2 separate regions of the Homo sapiens genome follow, and region 1 is linked to region 2. Evidence: fine-mapped expression QTL. Tissue or cell type: whole blood. Region 2 holds a variant in brackets; the other region holds the start of a gene. All regions are shown on one strand. Distances are between the middles of the regions.

Region 1 (8,102 bases), 59 kb before region 2:
CTTGATTAAATTGGTCAGAGGAGAAAGGGTCAGGATTATCCAAATTATTTGGAAGTTTACACCACTTGCTTTTCTACCTCCAGCCTTCTTAAGCTGTCTTTGGTAGTCCTAGGAGGAGGAGTGGGTCTCACGGTGGCAGGGACAATGTGGTTGGTCGCAGAGCCGCAACTGTCTGCTCTCCTTATCAACCATTCATGCCCTGGCATTTGCCCTGGGCTGGGGGACCTTCAGAAGGGAAATGTCCTGTTTTCCCCACGGTCCGATCAGAGCTCACCATTTCCAAGCCTGAGCCCAGTGGCTCTCCATCAGCCTCATTCTCACAGTAGATAATGCCATATGCTCCAGCGATCTGAGCTTCATACAGCCACAGACTTAGCAAAAGGCTTCCATCACCTTCACATTCAGTCTGTGGAAACAGCAAGTGTTCTTGGCTGGTTTTGTTTGTTTGTTTGAGATTGAGTCTCGCTCTGTCACCCAGGCTGGAGTCAAGCACGATCTTGGCTCACTGCAACCTCCACCTCCCAGGTTCAAGCAATTTTCCTGCCTCAGCCTCCCAGGTAGCTGGGACCACAGGCGCCTGCCACCACGCCTGGCTAATTTTTGTATTTTTAGTAGAAATAGGGTTTTACCATGTTGGCCAGGCTGGTCTCGAACTCCTGGCCTCAAGTGATTCACCCGCCTCGGCCTCCCAAAGTGCTGGGACTACAGATGTGAGCCATGGTGACTGCCCTGTTCTTGGCTGGTTCTAGCCCGGGAGTGGGTGGGTGGCATGAGGACAGAAAATGGGAAGAGCTGGAATGGAAGTTAAGGGCAGCCTGGGAAGGGCCTCTCTCAGGAGTTTAAATTTCATTCTCCAAGCAATGGGAAGTCATCCACCTTGTTCAGCAGTGCAGAGACATCACCGGTTTGTACATTAGAAAAGTAACTGCTGGCACTGAAAAGGATGGATTGAAAGGCAGGGCCCTGGCAGCAGGGCCTGAGCCAGGGCAGAGGAGAGGGGGCAGGTTCCAGAGAAACTCAGAAGCAGAAAGCCCTGAGTTTACTGAGGGGGTTGAATGTACGAGGGGAGGAAGGCAGCATGTAACATCTGCAGCTTGAGCGAATGGGAGGTGCTGCTTATCCAGGACAGAGAATTCTTGCAAAGGATGTGGAGATGATGGGCTCCAGGCTCCCCGCACTGAAGGTGCAGTGGCTGTGGGACAGCTTGTCCAATGGCAGTAACACATGCCAGTCAGGGGCTTGAGAGAGGGAGTGGGGTGCTCGGACAGGTCATCAGCACACTCCACTAGGTGCAGAGGGGGTAATGTTATTAATAAAACTTGGCTGGGCACGGTGGTCCACGCCTGTAATCCCAGCACTTTGGGAGGCTGAGGTGGGCAGATCACCTGAGGTTGGGAGTTTGAGACCAGCCTGACCAACATGGAGAAACCCCGTCTCTACGAAAAATACAAAATTAGCTGGGCGTGGTGGTGCATGCCTGTAATCCCAGCTACTCGGGAGGCTGAGGCAGGAGAATCGCTTGAATCTGGGAGGTGGAGGTTGCAGTGAGCCAAGATCATGCCATTGCACTCCAGCCTGGGCAACAAGAGCGAAACTACGTCTCAAAAACAAAACAAAACAAAACAAACAGACAACAACCAAAAAAAAAAAAAAAAAAAATAGCCGGGTGCGGTGGCTCATGCCTGTAATTCCAGCACTTTGGTAGGCCATGGCGGGCGGAGGTCGGGAGTTTGAGACCAGCCTGGCCAACATGGTAAAACCTCATTTCTACTAAAAATAAAAAAATTAGCTGGGCATGGTGGCGTGCACCTGTAGTTCTAGCTACTCGGGAGGCTGAGTTGGAAGAATCGCTTGAACCTGGGAGGCAGAGGTTGCCGTGAGCCGAGATCGCGCCACTGTACTCCAAGCTGTACAACAAGAGCGAGACTCTGTCTTAAAAAAAAAAAAAAAAAAAAAAATATATATATATATATATATATATATATATATATATGCAGTCTGCAAGTGGAGCCATGAGGGGTTGGTACCTGCCCCACTCTATTCCCCCTGTGAGAACATCTGGAAAGAGGGGTTGGTTAGAAAGTTAGAGGACTCAGCCTTGGAGAAACCCCTGGGGCAGGCAGAGCTGAAGAAATGAGGGAATGGATAGAAAGACGCAGAGGCTAGGAAGCCATGAGGGTGGGAATGGTTTCAAGGAGGCGTTAGCAACATCCAGGGCTCCAATGGAGTGAAGGAATGGGATAGGGAGGAGGCCCATGGGTTGAAACAATGAGGAGCCTAAGGTTGCCTCCCTTGGAAAGGCATCTTCCCCTAGAAAGATGCCGGTGCCTCCCTGTAAAAATCACCTTCCCCTAGGATGAAGGGGAAGAAAGTCAGATTGTAGGAAGTTGAGGATTGAATAGGGCTTGAAGAAGCAGAGAGTGGGTCTGGTTGCTTCTTAGGGGAGGCCTACTGATGAATGCAGAAGAGAGAAACAGGGCAATGACTTGAGGGCAGGGCAGGGTTGGGGCCAGGTTCCCTTAGAAGGGGGTATCCTGAAGTGTTTGTAGTTTTGAAGCAGAGGGGAGGAGAAAGAAGAACTAACAGAGTTTCCTGAAGCACATAGGAGGTTGGGCTGGAAAGCAAAAGGGACATCTCTGGAAGAGCAGAGACAATAGGGCCTGAACCAGGCAGAAGTGGAGGAGTGAGGCGGTGAGAGAAGGAGAAATGAACAGGATCTGATAACCAGTGGAGGGCCAGGGAAGCTGCACAGGAGACAGAGGCTTCCAGCCTCTGAGCCAGAGGTGGATTCAGGAGAGTAGGAGGAGGTGGCTTAGGTAGGGAAGCGGTCTCAGTCGCCTTTAGCCTCCTTGAGTTTTAGGTGTCTGGGAGACTCACAGGTGGCCCTCTGTAGGCGGCTGGTGTGAGGGGCTGGAGCCCTGGGGGCTCAGAGGCAGTGGTGGGAGTGGGTGGAGGTGTCTGGGGGTGGGGAAGTTGTGAGAGGCAGGGAAGGGGTCTGAGAAAAAGCTTCCAGAAGGACAGACCCAAAAGGAGGAGTATGTTAGCAAAGCCCAAGAAAAGTGTGCTTCAAGGAAGAGTGTCCATTAGAGCAACTGGTTTTATTAATGACTATAATAATAATGTATTTAAAAATTTTACTAGCCGGGCGTGGTGGCACCCACCTGTAACCCCAGCTACTCAGGAGGCGTAGGCAGGAGAATTGCTTGAACCTGGGAGGCGGAGGTTGCAGTGAGTTGAGATCGTGCCACTGCACTCCAGCCTGGGTGACAGAGCGAAACTCCGTCTCAAAAAAAAAAAAATTATGAGCAATCCATAGGCGAGTGCAAATGGAAATCTCCAGGTTTGCAGATGCATTTTTCTGCTCCTGAAATGCCAAGGTGACAGGAATGAACTGCAGAGGGATCTTGCAAGTAAGCAGGAAAGTGACAAATGAACTGCACTATGGGTAAGTGTAAGGTAATACACTTGATAACATAATCTAGACTATATTGGCCAGGCGGACAAATCCTGAGCTCTCAGTTACAACCTGGGAAAGGAGCCAGGAGTCAGTATAGAGGCATGGGTCTGTCCCTTCGGATTAAGAATCTTTAACCTGGGGCCTGAAGACCATCTTCTGGGATTTCAAGCACCCTGCCTCCCCCGGAAATTGAATGCACCAGGGAGTGAAGTGTGGGGAGAGAGGAGCAGGAGAGAGGAGATCCTCAGAGGGGTTTGGAAACCCAGTCCTGGAGTTCCGTTCAACATGCTAACCTAACGTTGGGCCTCCCCGAGGAGGGTGTGGTTCTGAGGTTTCTCCCCCTCCCAGTTTCCCACCTTGCTGAAGAAACTTGCCCTTGACATGCAAATGATGGAAACACATTGGTGTCTGGGGCACTTTGGTTTGTGGTTTTTACCATCAGCTGTCTCTGAGGCTGAGCGTGTCGATCTGTCTCAGCAAGGCTAGCAAATTGCAAGCGCTCAGAGGAGGGGAGAGGGGGGCTATTCCTGGGGTTCTGGGCCCAGATGGGCAAATGGGTCTGTAAGGCAGACTTTTCCAGGAGGAGGGTGCAGACCCTTTGCAAGTTGTTTGGGGACAGAGCTTAGTTTGCATCTGGCCTTCTTCACCCTCCTCAGATCCCCTAGGTAGCAGGGTGCTTGGTGGTCACCACCTGACCTAGGCTACCTACTCCCAAATTGGAGTCTGAAATGAAAGCACGTGGGAAAAGTATAGCAAAGGTCAGTTTCCCATTTATTAAACAAGTTCTTCCGTGGAAAATCTTCCCAGGGCTCAGCAGCCCTTGAAGTGATCAGGGATGCTGGGGAGGTTGGGGGAGGAGAAAATGGGAGATGGCAGGTGGTATCTGTCGGTGTGGACGAGTGATAGCTTTGATTTGCTCCCCCTTCCCACCATCTCCTGTGTCCTCAGCATTTGATTTGGTTTCCTTTCCGGGGCCCTAATTCCAGGGAGGTGCCCCTCCTCCACACCTGTGTCCCAAGCCCCAGCTGTGCGTCCTCACCCTGGGTTCCTGGCACTGACCTGGAACCTGTCGGGCAGCCCTGCTCTTAGCTCCCCGCGGAGTCTCGGAGGTCTCAGGTCTCCTCCGCCCACCCTCTCCGCAGCTGGGAGGGGCAGGATGCCCCGCACCCCGCTCTGCGCGGGAGGTCGAGGCACCCCGCTCACGCCCTCCTGCCCGCAAGCTAGGGAGTCACTGCGGCCGGGGAGGGAGGTACACGGAGGGCATTTTTCCAGCCTTCACTGGGTGCTCCCCTCTCCACCCCCGGCAACCATGTAGGTTTCCGGACCCCCAGGTCCGCTTCCCTCCTCTCTGGAAAGGGGTCGGCCATAGGGAAAGGGCCCGGGGGCGCCGCAGCCGGGCCCCCGCCCCGCCCCGCCCGCAGCCCCGCTCCTCCCCGCGCGGCCCCACTTGTGGCCCTGCCGGCAGCCGCGCAGGGACAGCTGCATTTCTCGCCGCCCGCCGCTAGGAAGCCGGCCTCGCCTCACTTTCTCCGCCTCCCCGCGCCCCAGCCGCGCCGCCGCCGCCGAGCCTGGCCCCGCCGCCACCGCTGCGGATTGCAGCCCCTCCCCCGCCCGGCCCGCGGCCCGGCCCCTGCGGCCCGCGCGGAGCGGACGCGCGTGGCGCTGCCCGGTAAGACCCCCGCGCTCCCGCGGCTCCCGCCCGGCCCCGGGCGCGGTCCTCGCCGGCGCCCCGCGCGCAATCCCGGCCGCGGCCCCGGCCCAGCGGCCCCACCTTCTCGGGACCCGTTGCCCAGGCGCCGCCGGGAGGGCCGGGCCGTCGCGAGTTTGATTCCCGGGGCTGTCGGCGCGGCTCCCCGGGAGCTCCGCGTGCGGCAGGTCCCCGCCCGCCCTTCCTTCCCGAGCCCCCACCTCATCCCGGGCCCCGGGCGCGGGGGGCGTGCGGGCATCTGGGGGGCCGGGAGCGGGGCGCGCGATTAGACCGGGGGGCGCGGGCCAGCGCCGCAGGGAAGGGAGACGAGGCCTCCCGGAGCCGGCTTCGCCCGAGTCCCCTCTCCCGCCGCTCCCCCTTTTGTGTGGGCGCCCCTCCCCGCAGTGCCCGGGCCTGGGGGCGCAGGCTGGGCGGCGACGGCAGGCGGGGGCGCCTGCTGGGAGCCGAGCGCCTTTCAGGGGGAGGGGAGCTTCGCTTCCTGCCCCCCGCCGATGTCACAGGTCGGCTCAGCCTTTTTTGGTCCCTCCCGGTCCCCTGGGAGCTGTATCTCCCGTCAGCTCGGCCAGGGAAAGTTGGGAATGCGCTGTCCCCGCCCCTGCTCGCCCGCCCCGCCGGCTCCTGTGCCCCAGGCTCTGAGCTCCAAGGGGGGCTGGTGTCAGCGTTTATTCATTCCTCCCTCTTCCTTTTCTCGGTCGCGTGGTCGCCTTACACCCAGCACTGCCCTGCCCATTTCTTTTCCCCTTAAAAAAAGTTTTAGCTCTAAGAAACGTACACTGAAATTAAATTCCTGAGACGGAATGTGTTTTAAGGGGAGGGAGGGTTTAGATTTTCCTTTTTTTGGTGGAGTAGTGGAGTAGAAGATGAGGGGACTCCCTGGGAGTTTAGAAACAAGATGCCCTGGAGGCGATAGAGGATACAAGAAGACCATCCACCGTGCTCCCCACCTGATCCGCAGTCAGCGTCTTGTAGCGAGAGGAATGAGCCTTCCCTGGGTGATCCCGCAGCACCTGAGCCACCTGGCCCAGGAGAAAGGACTCAGGGAGATGTACTGGGCCTTTCACCCCTTTTCTTTATAGCCAGCTGTGCCTGAAGGAGGTGAGGGACCCCAGGAATTCTCTCACGGAGGAAGTCATCTCACCATGTGGTTGGGCCCCTGCTGGATCAAGTGTGAAGCTGGGTCCTCTCTGTTGTTGGGGGTCAGTGCCACTGGTACCTCAGTTTGAATATGGTGCCATCTCTGGGATGGAGAGGTGCTGCTGGGAGAAACCTGGCTCGGGTCTCCAGGAAGCTGGAGCGTGTGCAGCAGGGCTGGGTGTGAAACCCGCTGTCCACTTTCTGCAGCTGGAAGGGCCAGGACAAGGGAAACAGGATACTGCTACCGACCTGGGCACATCCTTGAATAGAAGAGAGACCCTGGACAGCGAGGATGGCCCAGGGATGTTGATATGACTAGGGCTGTATCCCCAGCTCCTGGGCCAGGCCAACTAGGGCCAGAGGTTGGAGTCATGGGCCCCTTTGAGAATCTGGTGAAAGCTCTAACTCCTCTCCTTCCAAAATGCATGTGTGTAGGGAGACACCTGTATTCAACACCAGACGGTTAATATACCCCCTTGGAACCAGGACCTCCATTGAGACCTCTGCCCTAGAGTTACTGGTCTGACCTGGGCCATCAGAACAGTTGTCACCTTTTTGGCTGGTCAGTGAATAATCCCAGGGTTCAAAGAGCAGACTGCTTCTAAGGTCTTTTCTCATGACCTCCCTATGCAACTTTGGGCTTGTGGCCATGGAGACCTGGAGTGTCTGGACAGATCCCAGCTCCCTACAGCTAGCTAGAGGATGGGGGCAGATGAGGTGGCCCTTTTCCAGGGGCTCATTTTGCTGTCTGTGTGGTGGGAAGGCCCTGGGCACTGGACTAGGCCCACTGGTCTATTGAATTAGAGGTAAATAAAGGGATTTGGGTGGAGGTGGATATTCTGGTGTTTCAGCTGGGTGTGAGATCCAGGCCTTTAAGAGCTCCAGCTTGTTCTTGGGGAAATGGGGTTGAGGTGCTTTAGTAGAGAGTGTTAAGTGTGAAAGACGACTCTTAAGGAGGTCTTGGGGCAGAATTGTCCAAGGCTATGATCTGGGTGTTGTCGGTTCCTTAGATCCCTTTGGACTCTTGAAGGCAAGTGGGGGCCAGAGGGCTGCTGTCACTATCCCCAGTGCAGCCCCAGGCCAGAGGAGGCCTGGCCTGCCTTTCCTTTCTTGGCTCACTGGGTCCTGGGCTGCTGCATAGGTGTTTGTGGCATCTACACTTGCTAGGGATCTGGAAGAGCTTTAGGACGATCTGCCATTTGTGACTTCTCTACCTTGGGACTGAGAAGACTTCCTTAGGCTCAAGTCCCCCACAGAGAGCTGTAGGGGATTTTTCTTTGTTTAACTAGAGAGCACAGTGTTTGGCATATGGCAGCACTCACACTGGTATTCTTCCTTTAGAGCTTCCTACATTTGCTCTGGTAATAAGCAGCAGAGGCAGGAGTATTCTAGAGCCTTGGGGCACAGGAAGCTGGGTGTCTGACAGGGGTCACCTCTGACTATCCAAGGTGAGCTGGAGGAGGTGGTGCTTCTGTGTTGCTGGCTCTTGCACTTACAGGAAGCAAGAGCTATAAAGGGCATTGGAGGCCGGATGCGGTGGCTCATGCCTGTAATCCCACCACTCTGGGAGGCCGAGGGGGGTGGATCACCTGAGGTCAGGAGTTTAAGACTAGTCTGGCCAACATGGTGAAACCCCGTCTCTACTAAAAATACAAAAATTTGCTGGGTGTGGTGGCGTGTGCCTGTAATCCCAGCTACTCAGGAGACTGAGGCAGGAGAATTGCTTGAACCTGGGAGGTGGAGGTTGCAGTGAGCCGAAGTTGTGCCATTGCACTCCAACCTGGATGACAAGAGCAAAACTTT
Region 2 (8,102 bases):
TTAGGGCCTAGAGCCAGAGGTAAGGTATTTTTTCAGGTTTCCTTAAATCAACTAGACAGGAACTTTATGTCATGAGTGTCTACAGTGTGCGCTGGCTGCTACAGGGACCAAGCAGTCTGTGAAAGTCAGTTTGTATACCTGTGGACCAGCTGGGAACCTAGAGTGGACACAGAGAATGTTGGAGGTGAAAAGAGTCTTGGAGATTATTTAGTCCTACCCTCCCATTTTCCGGATGGAAACCTGGAGGCCCAGTAGGTAAAATGATGTGTCCGAGGTCACTTGGCTAGTTAGTGATGGGACCAAAACCAGCATCCAGGTCTCTGAACTGCATCACCTTGCAAGAGAGTGGTCCTCACAATTTACTGTGTATCAGAATGACCCAGGGAGCTTGTTAGAAAGCACATCCCCAGAGCATGTTCTCAGAGATTCTGATTTAATAGTGGGTTAGAGAATATGGGTTCTTAGCAAACACCTCAGGGGAGTCTGAGGAAGGTGGTCGCCACCGTCCTCTGAGATACACCTGCTATAGTGCAAAGAACATTTGACTTCTTAGACTGATGGAAAAGCTCATTGCATTTCCTGAAGCCTCATCAGTAGCAGTGAGCAGAACAGGCAGAGATGCAAACAGCTTTAAAGATGAGAGCATGAGGGATTAAACCCAGGCTTTAAAATGCATTGCAAGTAAGTGGTATGTCAGGAGACTTGACATGTACATGCAATTTCAATGTGGCGCAGTCCTGGACAACCTCTAGGTCACACACGACTCAGTGTATCTATCTATAAAATGGTGATGATGATGGTGGAAGGTAATAACCTGCACTACTACATTGTCACGAGGATTAAATGATGTGATGCACGAGAAGTACTTTGCCTAGCACTTGGTAAATGGCAGCTTCTCTGATGATGCATAATTGCTGGGGGTGGATGAGGGCAGGTTTCTGTTTAATGCCTTTACATAATGGACTTCTGCTGAGGGTTTCATTTGAAGAAAGGGGTTCTGGTTCTGTAGCTAAAGAAAGTGTACAGACCCTTCCATCCCTGGGGGACTAGGATGCAGCAGGCTGTTTCTGCAGAGGGCTCATCCTGGTTTGTGCCTAGAACAGTGGTGCCTTTCTCTGGTCCTGACCGGCTCCCCCAGCCCCCACCTATATCCCTGGAAGATTTCAATGATCAGACCAAACAGGGACTGTTTCTCTCCATTTTCTAGAAGTAGAGATTGAGGCCCTCGGGAGGCGAAAGGAAGCTGGTTATGGGACCCCTAAAAGCTCTTGCCCCCTTCCCCTGATTGTTAGATTTGGGGCTGAGGCTACCAGCCCCAGCTGGCCTGAGGTCCTTCCCTGCACTGCCTTCTAGGAGCTGGGCCTGCAGGGAACCAGGAAGCTGGTGTCTTGGCCAGGGTGTGCCACTTCCTGGTTCTGGCCAGTTTTGCTGCAAGTCAGGTCAGCCTGACCTTACCAATGCTGTAAAACCCATTCTGGGTGCAGATGGGGGAAGAGAGGGATCCCAGGGCCTCATCTGGCCCTGCTATCAGCCTAATGAAGGGGGTGGCTTGGAGGGTGGGCTGTGGGAGGGCTGAGGGTGCTGTCAGTGCGCACTAGCGAGTGTGTATAGAAGAGTGACTGTAATTTTAAAAACATAGCTTCAGAGTTGGGCGAAGAGGGGAGTAGTACATTGAGTGCCTGGGCTGTGTGGGACGGTTCAAAAAAAATCCTAAAGTGTTGTCTGTGTCCTATGGCTGCGAGGGCCTGGGAGGAGCATGTGGCACTGTGCAAGTGAATGGGGTTGAGTGAGCTGGTGTGTGTGGCAGTGAGTGGGAGCCTGTTAGCACATGCAGGCATGTGAGCTGTGTGCTGGCATGTGCTGCTGTATGTGCCCATACAAGGAGAGAGCACTGGCCAGGAGTCTCACGATCTGGGTTCGAATCCCAGTGCTGCAGCCACTGGGCTCTCTGACCTCTGGCAACATGCACCATGTGGAAGTGAAAACATGAGGTTTCTCCTGCCTCCCTAACCGTGGCAGCTCCAGAGTATACGTGTGGGCACGTGGGTATGTGGATGGGCAGGAGAGGGGACCTGGGCAGCTGGGCTCTGGGCGCCCCTGACTGTGCAAGGGGATCGCTGCTGCTACACAGGCGGAGCAGGGGCTGAGGCCGGGTGGAGGGAGCAGTCTGTGGTTGGGGGGGTGCAGCTGGCCCAGCAGTGAGTGGCTCTAAATTATCCCATCTGCTGTCTGGGCTGGGCCCTTCTCACTCTGGGTGGAATTTCTGATGGTGTCCCGGCTGCCTGAGGCGGGCGGCCTCCCAGCCGCAGCTGCTGCCTGCTCTTTTGAAGCTCAGCCCTGGGCCAGCCACCCCTCCCTCCCAGCCTCTGTTCCTCTGTCCTGGGCCTACATTCCTCAGCTGCCAGAGAAGGCATTTCTGAGAGGGCCACTCTGCCTGTGCTCCTGCTGCCCAGAGCCCATGGAGCCCCTCCCTTGGGGGACAGGCCCCTTCAAGCCACCTCCTTCCCCTGGTTAGGAGTGGGCACCCTGCATTATTCCAATCACTTCTCCTACCCTTGGAAGCTTAGCTGGAGGGCAGGGTATGGGCAGGAATGGGCACAGGGCTGCTGGCCCAGCTCCCTGCTCCTCCCTTGGGGTCCCTGAGCCCTCTCAGCCTGAGGTCCTGGAGGTCCCTGAGTGGGGAGGCCTTTGTGCTCCACATTCACTCCCTTCAGGGCTGGATTCCCAGGCCAGACGCCTGGGCCAGACTCTAGAATCAGCCCCTTGGAACTATGTGGCCTTGGGGTGTGAATGGCCCGTGCTCATAGAGTCTTACTAACAGCTGCCTCTGACTGACAGCTTCCCTTGTGGGGTGCTGTGCATGCCCACCACAGTCAATCCCCTGCAGGAGCGCCATCTGAGAAGGTATATGTATCCCCATATTACAGATTGCTCAGAGCAATCCTGCTTGCCCCATAAGCTGCAGGATCAGGAGGTAAGCAGAGGACTGCCCAACTCCTGACCACTCAGGCTAAAGCCCCACTCCTGACCACTCGCTCCATGGCTTCCTACCCCAGACATAGCACCAGTAAACAACTTGTGGTCTCCCCTCCACCGGCAGCTTCCTGGCCAGACCCCCAGCCCTGTTGTGCCCCAACAGGCCCTCCACACTGTGGTTCTACCTCTGAAACAGCTATGCTATGAGCCAGCACTTTGTCCACTCGGCCCTCATTCCTTCCCTGCATCCCCAGCAGGAGGCAGGTGAGTCCCTGACCAAGGTTGGAGGGTGCACCATGGGGTGCAGTGACTGAAGAAAGCCTGCCTAAATGATCAGAGCAGGAAGGATTGGGTTGGGATTCTTAGGATTGAAAAGGTTTTAAAGCCCTGGAGGCTCTGGGGTTTGCTTTCTTAAGATTTTTTCTACCACAATTCAGTTTTTATTTTTTTAGACCTAGTCTCGCACTGTCGCCCAGGCTGGAGTGCAGTGGTGCAATCTCGGCTCATTGCAACCTCTGCATCCTGGTTTCAAGCGATTCTCCTGCTCCAGCCTCCTGAGTCGCTGAGATTACAGGCACCTGCCACCACGCCCAGCTAAGTTTTGTATTTTTAGTAGAG[T/A]CGGGGTTTCACCATGTTGGCCAGGCTGGTCTCAAACTCCTGACCTCGTGATTCACCCGCCTCAGCCTCCCAAAGTGCTGGGATTACAGGCGTGAGCTACCGCGCCTGGCCATAATTCAGGTTTTGTAAAATTTTGTTTTAATTAGAGAGTAAAGACATTCTAGAAAAACTTTTTTTTTTTTTTTTTTTCATTGAGACCAGGCTGGAGTGCAGTGGCACGGTCTTGGCTCACTGCAAGCTCCGCCTCCTGGGTTCACACCATTCTCCTGCCTCAGCCTCACGAGTAGCTGGGACTACAGGTGCCTGCCACCACACCCGGCTAATTTTTTGTATTTTTAGTAGAGACGGGGTTTCACCGTGTTAGCCAGAATGGTCTGAATCTCCCTACCTTGTGATCCACCTGCCTCGGCCTCCGAAAGTGCTGGGATTACAGGCGTGAGCCACTGCGCCCGGCTAGAAAAACTTTTAATTAGAGACACTATAGGTTGGAAGTTAAGAAGATCATGGACTCCGGGGCCAGACTGTTTGGATTCCAAATCGGGCTCTGCCACTGACTATGTGACCCTGTGTAAGTTATTTAATCTCTCTGAGCCTTAGTTTTCTTTTCTGTGAAATGGATGTATTCATTGCTGTACTGTGGGGATTTGATGAGATAATGCATGCCAAGTATATAGAAAATGCATGTACCTACCAAGTGCTCATAGACGTTTGCTATAATTATTATTAAATAGTAACTTATGTCTGCTGTAGATGATATAATATGCAAAAGACATGGCCAGGCGCGGTGGCTCATGCCTGTAATCCCAGCACTTTGGGAGGCCTAGGCAGGCAGATTATCAGAGGTCAGGAGTTCGAGACCAGCCTGGCCAACATGGTGAAACCCCATCTTTACTAAAAATACAAAAAATTAGTTTGGCATGGTGGCACGCACCTGTAGTCTCAGCTACTCTGGAGGCTGAGGCAGGAGAATCACTTGAACCCGGGAGGCAGAGGTTGCATAAGCTGAGATCACATCACTGCACTCCAGCCTGGATGACAGAGAGAGACTCCATCTCAAAAAAAAAAAAAAAAAAAAAGAAAGAAGAAAAAGATATAAAAATCACTGGCAATGCTATTACTTTAATGTTCTTAGTAATCCAATAATAATGGATTATTTGCATATTTTATTTTTAAATTAATAAATGAGTATCAATCAAAATTTTAGAGGTATACAAGAATCTGTAGTGGAAAAATTTCCTTGATCTATCTCTTATGACCCAGTTCTCCCCAGGGGAAACATATATTATCAGTTTCTTGTGAATCCTTTCGGATTTCATACACACACACACACACACACACACACACACACACACACACCCCATAATGCACTATAGTAGAGTGACTATACTCATTGTTTTGTACCTTGCATTGTTCCCTTAGGTCTTGGGCTAAAGAGACATATTGAAATCCCTCATTTTTGTTTGTTATTGAATAGCATTATATAGAGAGAGGAGGATGCTGATAATGTATCATATTTTCATCAGCCTGCTACGGGTAGACTTGTAGAGTGTTTCCAGTCTTCTGCTGTTAGACTATTACAAGGAATATCCTTATGCCCATACTCAACACAGTTGCAAACATATCATCTGTAGGTAAATTTCATAGAAGTGGAATTCCTGAATCAGTAGGTAGGTGCAAAGTGTGCCTTAGTGTGGAGGGCAAGGGCAGGGGTTGGGAGTTCTGTTTGCAGGACCCTCCTCTGCCCATCCTGAGCACTCCTTTCTAATCATGGGTTCCTTGACCCGGATTACCTGGGCATGTTCGGATGCTAAATTGTGGGGCATGGATTGCTGCCTGTCCGGGGACCCAGAGGTGTCTCCTGCTGCTGTCCAGACCTCAGAACTCAGCCTACTGGGGGGGCCTTCAGCCTGACTGCCTATAGGAGAAGCCCAGGGAGGAGCAGCTGACCCCTTTTCCCAAGAAGCTGGGCCTGGTCCAGTATGAGCTCATGCCTGGAGCCAACCCAGCTTCCTTGGCCCTGCACCTGAGTTACCAGTGGCCCCCTTCCTCCAGCGTGGGCCCTTTGACTTGGTAGCATGAACGCGCGTGTTCCTGCCAGCCCAGTGGGGTCCCCTAGAGCTGTGGCACCTGGGAGGGGAGGGGCAGGGGGACAGTAGCCCCCTTAATCCGCTGAGGTTTGATCTCCTCCCAGGCACCTGAGTCGAATATCTTGGCTGAGCTGGTGGCTTTTGTTTATGGAGTGAGGGACTGTTGTGGAAATAGTCCCCAGCCAGCCCAGGTTGTGGTGGAAAACAGTTGGTTGCTCAGGCAACTTGACAACTTCAGTAGGATGGGAAAAAGGTTTTGTGAGGAAACTGCCACTGTTTTGTCTTCTCCTTTGCTTCCTGGACATAAGCACCATCCCTTATACCTCCAGTGGCACCCAGGCACCCCCAGCCTCTCCAGGGGCAACCCTGTCCTTTAGTATTCAATTTAACTCACAGTTATTGAGTTCTTGCTGTGTGCCCAGCTCTGTGCTAGGCTCTAGGGAATATGGAATGGTGATCAAGCCCAATGGATACAGAGTGTTAAATCTGGAATCGGACCTTCTGGGTTCAAATTTCAGCTTGGCCACTTAGCTGTGTGACCTTGAACAAGTTACTCAACCCTTCTACGCCTCATTTTTCTACTATGAAGTGGAAATAGCAGTAGTAATATGCACCTTGTAGAGCTGTAGGGAGGATGAAGAGAGTTAACATGCAATAAGGCACTTTGAGTAGTGGCTAGCATATAAGGAAGCAGGCAATAAGTGTTATCTATTCTCATTATGACTATTATGACCATTATCTTGCTAAGATGAACCAAACAAATGACATGTTTCTCTGCTGAGAAGCCTCATCTTGGATCTTTTTCACTAGAAGGCAGAATTGGCTTCTTGATGGTGCCTTTTGTGGCAGCCACACCTGATATTTGGGCCTCAGGAGCAGAGATGAATGATGATGTCCTTAGGACTGAGGCTCTGGGACCAATTTGTCCACAAGGGACCTCATTCACCTTCTCTGAAACCTCTTGCCCTCGTCCCTGCCCCACATCTCCCATTGGCTACAGACTTGGCCACAAGTGTTGAGGCAGGAGAGAGAAAAATTAGAAAAGAAAAGGTCTTTTTTGAATCGTATTTTTTCTTTTGATTTTTTTTTGAGACAGAGTCTCACTCTTGCTCAGGCTGGAGTACAGTGGTGTGATCTTGGCTCACTGCAACCTCTGCCTCCTGGTTCAAGTGATTCAAGTGCCTCAGCCTCCCAAGTAGCTGGGATTACAGGCATGCGCCACCACACTGGGCTAATTTTTGTATTTTCAGTAGAGACAGGGTTTTACCATGTTGGCCAGGCTGGTCTCAAACTCCTGACCTCAGATGATCTGCCCGCCTCGGCCTCCCAAAGTGCTGGGATTACAGGCATGAGCCACCAAGCCTGGCCTTTCTTCTGATTTTTAAAGATTAAAAACAATTTTTAAAGGAATGCCCCACCCTTACAGATCTAAGTGATAGGGGTGGGGGTGGCCAAGGCATCATGCCATGCCCAGCCTGCACAGCTCATGGAGTAGCCTTTGGAAGGCAGGGGCTGCCCCCAGCCTCACCCCTGCCGGCAGCTCTGCTGTGTGGGCATGGAAACCAGGTGTCCTGCTTCTCTGGGTGGCAGTGGGGCTTCTTCCTGGCAAAGAGGTTTAGGAGTCCTTTTATCAAATCCTCATGGTTTGGTTTTGTTTTGTTTTTGAGACGGAGTCTTGCTCTGTCACCCAGGCTGGAGTGCAGTGGTACGATCTTGGCTCACTGCAACCTCCACCTCCCAGGTTCAAGCAATTCTCTGCCTCAGCCTCCCGAGTAGCTGGAATTACAGGCACCCACCACCATGCCTGGCTAATTTTTGTATTTTTAGTAGAGACGGTGTTTCACCATTTTGGCCAGGCTGGTCTTGAACTCCTGATCTCGTGATCCACCTGCCTTGGCCTCCCAAAGTGCTGGGATTACAGGCGTGAGCCACTGTGCCCTGCCAAATTCTCGTGTTTTACAGATGTAGAAGAGATGAGTGGTCCAGAGAAGTACCCAAGGTCACACAGCAGCGCATGACAGCATTGTCTGTCTCTCCCCTGCTCCTCCTCCTCCTCCCCTAAGGTCCAGTGGCCTCTTTTCTCCAATGGCTGTGCCCGAGGGTCCTCTTTGCCCTTCCTGGCTGCCTGGGGGTGGGCACAGGTGTGGCTGCCCAGCAGCTCTGGGGGCCTCGGGAATGAGGCTGGCTTTGTTGCAGCCCCGGCAGCTGTGGCCATTTGGGTCGAGTTTCCATTAAGCCTTTTCCGAGCCTTGGGCAGGAGCAGGAGGCTCAGCGTTTAAAGGTCACCCGGCTTTTGAAGCTGCAGCGACATTAATAGCTTGGGAAGAAAACAAGCCTTTGCAGGGGCAGGAGGACAAGGCGTCTCTGTCAGGGCTGCCTGAAACACACACACACACACACACACACATACCCTGAGAGCCT

What was found. PIP is the estimated chance that this variant, and not a neighbour inherited with it, causes the effect.
Region 1: CUEDC1 starts here. The variant in region 2 is fine-mapped to the expression of CUEDC1 in whole blood (TOPMed, PIP above 0.99).

What each region holds. Positions count from the first base shown.
Region 1 is chr17:57,952,249-57,960,350 of GRCh38, reverse strand. It overlaps CUEDC1 (CUE domain containing 1), which reads left to right and starts at 4,939. Exons shown (of 11, transcript NM_001271875.2): 1 at 4,939-5,126. RefSeq lists a silencer at 5,015-5,084 and an enhancer at 7,373-7,874.
Region 2 is chr17:57,893,336-57,901,437 of GRCh38, reverse strand. All of the region lies in intron 1 of CUEDC1 (CUE domain containing 1), which reads left to right. Among named protein-coding and RNA genes, the nearest start is that of CUEDC1-AS1, 15 kb to the left of the region's middle. RefSeq lists enhancers at 902-1,572, 1,573-2,244 and a silencer at 2,176-2,470. The variant T/A (reference allele first, on the strand shown) is at 3,595.